2 separate regions of the Homo sapiens genome follow, and region 2 is linked to region 1. Evidence: fine-mapped expression QTL. Tissue or cell type: whole blood. Region 1 holds a variant in brackets; the other region holds the start of a gene. All regions are shown on one strand. Distances are from middle to middle.

Region 1 (2,761 bases):
GGCTTTTTGCATTTGGGGGAACATGATGGCAGTCTTGGTGAGTAATTAAACTGGGACAGAATAAGACACTAATTTATTTCTGGTGAAATATCCTAAGACAAGTGTAAGAATTGCTCATGTGTCCATTACTTTTTCAGTTGCAAATTGGATCCAAACTGGCTTAAACAAAATTCCAAGAATAATTCTTGCTTTAGGCCTTGCCTAACGCAGGAACTCACAGTGTCACCAGAACCCGGTTTCTTTCAGTTCCGTTCTTACCCATGTTAGTTCCTTTTGCAATAGACTCTGCCTAATAAGTGCAAGACAGCTTTATCAACTTCTTATATCTTCTCAGAGTCAGTCTGGTGGGAAAGACTGAGGGACCCAGGATTCTCACGGTGTTTCATAGGATCTGACTGGGTGATGTCCCCGTCTATGAACCAATTGTTGTGGGTGCAAAAATGTGGCAGTTCCCTTGATCACATGATTTCATCTGTAGATGCAGGTGGTGCAACCATGAAGACCATAGGGACCAAGAGTAGGGAAGGGTGACTTCCTAAAGAAAATCTGGGGCTGATGCCAGGAGAGCGAATTCTGGGCAGGAAACAAACAAGCAAACCCATTTATTTTTGGGGGATAGCATTTACTGATGACTTCCAGTGATGGGAGTTCAAGGGAAGGATTATAGAAACTAAAAGGAAGAGGCAAAGAAGGCATGAGAAGCTATGGAATCTTGAAGGCAAGCTGGTCTTTCCCTTGTAGAGATGGGGCAGAGTGTGCCTGCGTTAACTTCTCTTTCCTGTGTCAAACCTAGACTTGCGATCTAGAAGATCAGTTCAAGAAGGTAATCCAAGGGCCTGATGACTCTTTTGGTAACCAGACACCAATCAAATAAGGGGAGGAGACGAAAATGGAATGATTTCTTCCATGCCACCTGTGCCTTTAGGAACTGCCCAGAAGAAAATCCAAGGCTTTAGCCAGGAGCGGAAACTGACTACCATGTAATTATCAAAGTAAAATTGGGCATTCCATGCTATTTTTAATACCTGGATTGCTGATTTTTCAAGACAAAATACTTGGGGTTTTCCAATAAAGATTGTTGTAATATTGAAATGAGCCTACAAAAACCTAGGAAGAGATAACTAGGGAATAATGTATATTATCTTCAAGAAGTGTGTGCAGGAATGATTGGTTCTTAGAAATCTCTCCTGCCAGACTTCCCAGACCTGGCAAAGGTTTAGAAACTGTTGCTAAGAAAAGTGGTCCATCCTGAATAAACATGTAATACTCCAGCAGGGATATGAAGCCTCTGAATTGTAGAACCTGCATTTATTTGTGACTTTGAACTAAAGACATCCCCCATGTCCCAAAGGTGGAATACAACCAGAGGTCTCATCTCTGAACTTTCTTGCGTACTGATTACATGAGTCTTTGGAGTCGGGGATGGAGGAGGTTCTGCCCCTGTGAGGTGTTATACATGACCATCAAAGTCCTACGTCAAGCTAGCTTTGCAGTGGCAGTACCGTAGCCAATGAGATTTATCCGAGACGCGATTATTGCTAATTGGAAATTTTCCCAATACCCCACCGTGATGACTTGAAATATAATCAGCGCTGGCAATTTTTGACAGTCTCTACGGAGACTGAATAAGAAAAAAGAAAAGAAAAGAAATTAGCTGGGTGCGATGGCTTATGCCTGTAATCC[C/T]GGCACTTTGGGAGGCTGAGGCAAGCGGATCACTTAATGTCAGGAGTTCAAGACCAGCCTGGCCAACATGGTGAAACCCCGTCTCTACTAAAAATAAAAAAACTAGCTGGGCGTGGTGGTACATGCCTATAATCCCAGCTACTCGGGAGGCTGAGGCAGGAGAATTGCTTGAACCTGGGAGGCAGAGGTTGCAGTGAGGCGAGATTGTACCACTGCATTCCAGCCTGGGCAACAGTGAGACTCTGCCTCAAAAAAATAAATAAATAAATAAATAAAGTAAATTAAAAGTCTTATTCAAACCAAATATGAAACTGGTGGTGATGTGTGGAATGTGTGTGTGTGTGCACATATGTAATGAATACGTGTGTGTATAATGTTTTTGCAGGTTTGCCAAATGATTCACAAGCCACGTGGCTGTTCTTAACACTGAAAGGTCCAGCAGAAAGGTGCAGTTACTCAGGAGAGAGGAGCCTCCTCTTAAGTAATCACTCGCATAAAACCTAATTGGAACTGAATTTAGAAAGCAGTTAAGATACATTCGAAACACAAGCACCCAACCAGTGCTGTCATTTATTCCCTTTTTTTTTTATTTTTAAGAGATAAGGCTGGGCTGTGTTGCCAGCTTTGACTCAAACTCCTAGGTCAAGCAGTCCTCCCACTTCAGCCTGCCAAGTAGCTGGGACTACAGGCACACGCCACTGCACTTGACCACGCACTTTTTCATTCACTTATTTTTTTCATTAATTCACTTCATCGGAGGAATTAATTTCTTTTGGTGTCATCTTTGGTAACAGTTGTATGTAGTGTTCATCCATCCATTCATTCAACAAATATGGACCAAATAGTGGTGAGCAAGATGGTGAACAATTCATGGTGCTGCCTGTCTAGCAGGTTTAGACATGAATTTAATTCTTAAGCAATAATTAATTACAGTTGTAGTAGATGCTCTGAAGAAGCACAGGGACTAAGGGAGACTTGTCTGTGGGGTCAGTGCAGGCAACCCATGGAAGTGATGTTGGAAGTGATTTTATTCCCCTTGGGGTCATCTTAGTGCTGTTTGTGCTTTTTTCTTTGCTTT
Region 2 (2,761 bases), 24 kb after region 1:
GCTGTCATTATTATGAAGCTAGGAGAATGCCAAGAGCTGGGAGGTATCAAAAGTTTCAGGAGTGCCTTGTGAAAAGGAGGGGGCAGAAACTGATGTGAGTCCAGCTGCCAGGGTTGTGCGAGTGCGAATGTGTGTGTCTGGGGAAAAGGTGATAAGGAAATGACTCAAGTGATTTACAAGACAAGCAAACGTATGTCTTGTGAAGGGTGATCTATTTAGACTAACCTCAATTACTGACCAAGAACCTATTTGACCTGACCCATTTTCTACTTCATTCACACACCAGTCTTTGTTCTCTTCCTTGAAGTCAGGCCACACACTGCCTCTTCTGTTACCTGAACACCCCTATATTATTCCCATCTCAGGACCTTCTGCACCTGCCTGGCTCCTTATAATTCCGGTTTCTGTTCAAATGTTGCTTCTTCGGAGACGATTTCTCTTGACTATTCCATCTAAATAAAATAGCGTAACTCTTTCCTTCGAGTTCCCCCGATTTCTTCATTGCACCTTTCACTCTCTTAAAGTTATCTCATTTATGTGTTTACTTGTTTAAGGCTTGCCTCCCCCATTCCGATGTACACTCTGTAAACCAGGGACACTTTTGACCTTGTTCCTGGCTGTATGTAACCTTAGCGTCAGGCGCACAGAAACTATATACATATCTGCTGTCTTCTGTAAATATAAAACCTCAAGTCCGGAGATCCCTAGACACTGGGAGCGATCAAGGGCCGGGAGTGTGCCTTGTGGACGAATGAGGAAGTGGGAAGGCCGTCCTGAGAAGATCGGGGAACCCTGGGAAGGAAAAGTAGAAGTCCGAGCTCTCGGGAGGACCGAGGGGCGCGAACGTGGGGGTCTCACCTGCCGAATGGCCGCCAGCGTGTTCTCGGGCGCGTCGTGGCTGCCGCCACGGTGGGCGATGGCAGAAATGCGGTCCCGGGGCTTGAGCACCTGCAGGGCCCTGCAAGAGGGCACCGGCTCAAAGCTGAAGACGCGCAGTAGAACGAAGAGGCTGCCGGTGAGGAGGCAGGCATTGACCGGGCTCCGCGTCACCAGCAGCAGCACTAGCAGCAGGAAGGAGAAAGGGCCCAGGAGGCCGCCCTGGTCCTCCCACAGCCACATGCCGGCGCCCGCACCGGCACGGACGGGAGTCCCGGACCCGCCGGGCTCCTGGGGCAGTAGAACGAGAAGCGAGGGGGAGGGTCCAAGGCACCGGCAGCAGCAGGAACCCTCTGAGGGGACCAGCGCCGCACAATGGCGGCAGCAGACACATCCAGAGAGGGAGTCGGCCGCCCAGCCAATCAGGGATCGGGATTCGCAGCGCCAGTGGGCGGAGCCGCTCCATGGCAACGGGGGAGGGCCCAGGCCCCAGGCCCCAGGCTCACGTTCCAAATCTAAGGTGGGTTAGGGTTTTCCGAGGTCTGAACTTCAACCTGGGCGTTCAGACTCCTAGGCGAGAAAAGGAGGGATAAGAACCATCCTAAAGCTGTAGGACTGGAAGGGATTTTAGTGACTCCTTTATCTGCCCTTGAGGAAACTGAATTCCAGGGAACCTGGAGAGGCAGGATGCTTAGACTATCAATTCAATTCAATTCAATTCAGTTCAGTTCAGTTCAATTCAAGATGTGCCAAATACCGGTCCAGGTGCTCCGGACACAGTTGAACAGGACCTACAGGGTTTTTGCTCTTATGGGATTCACATTCTTGTGGGAGGAAATAAAAGTTAGCAAGTACACCTAACGTTTACAGAGCACTTACCATGTCCCAGGTACTTGACGAGCAAACACTTTATATGCTTATCTCATTCTCAATACAGCCTAACAGTTACTATCAGGAGACTGATTTCAATCGACTTTATTTTCCAGATTCTGGGGGACTGGAAGAGCCTAGCAAAGAAGGCACAATCGGATTATAAAACTGGAAGGGGTTTTAAGGATTCCCTTATTTCATAGATGCGGAAACTGAGGATAGGTGAATTAAGCAGTTAATGGCAGGGTGGGGACTGACATAAAGGCCTCCCCAGTGATTTGTGACATTTTCACTCCTCCTCCCCCTAATCTTACTTCTGCTAAGGGCTTTTGTACCAGGCACTGTACAGGAGTTACCTCAACTGTGCCTCACAACCACCCTTGTGATAGGCACTTTTAAAACCCCCATTTTACATATGCAAAAACAGGCACTGGAAGGAGGGTAAGAGAGATAGACCATGAAGCCGAGTTAGGGAGTGAAAAGGGGCCCCTGGACATATTTTGGAGGGCTGGTAACATTTTTATGTAGAGAACTTTGCAAAAATATTCAGGGATTTTTCTGTTACCTTTTTTTCCTTTAGTGCATTTTCCCACTGATTTGCAAAAGGGGATAGATGTCTTAAGCCTTCCAGTTGGCATCTAGGATTCAGCCTTTTTTTTTTTTTCTTTCAGACAGTCTCACTCTATCGCCCAGGTTGGAATGCAGTGGTGCAATCATGGCTCACTGCAACGTCGACCTCCTGGGCTCAAGCGATCTTCCGACCTCAGCCTCCCGAGTAGCTGGGATCACAGGCTCGCGCCACCCCACCCGGCTAACGTTTAAAATTTTTGTAGAGATGCCGTCTCCCTTTGTTGCCCAGGCTGATCTCGAACTCCTGGGCTCAAGCGATCCTTCCGCCTCGGCTTCCAAAATGTTGGAATTATAGGCGTAAGCCATCACGCCCGGTGGGTTCAGCAAGTTTTTACCTACAAGAAAATATTTTGGTGAATGTTACATGTTTTCTAACGGCTGCATA

The links. PIP is the estimated chance that this variant, and not a neighbour inherited with it, causes the effect.
Region 2: it holds the start of GDE1, and the variant in region 1 is fine-mapped to the expression of GDE1 in whole blood (INTERVAL, PIP 0.99).

Annotation. Positions count from the first base shown.
Region 1 is chr16:19,497,127-19,499,887 of GRCh38, forward strand. It overlaps TMC5 (transmembrane channel like 5), which reads left to right. Exons shown (of 22, transcript NM_001261841.2): 21 at 1-37; 22 at 794-1,987. The coding sequence ends at 840. It also overlaps the pseudogene RNU4-46P. Among named protein-coding and RNA genes, the nearest start is that of TMC5-AS1, 11 kb to the left of the region's middle. The variant C/T (reference allele first, on the strand shown) is at 1,684.
Region 2 is chr16:19,520,846-19,523,606 of GRCh38, forward strand. It overlaps GDE1 (glycerophosphodiester phosphodiesterase 1), which reads right to left and starts at 1,253. Exons shown (of 6, transcript NM_016641.4): 1 at 859-1,253. The coding sequence starts at 1,119. RefSeq lists enhancers at 535-594, 720-1,454, 765-934 and a silencer at 1,045-1,214.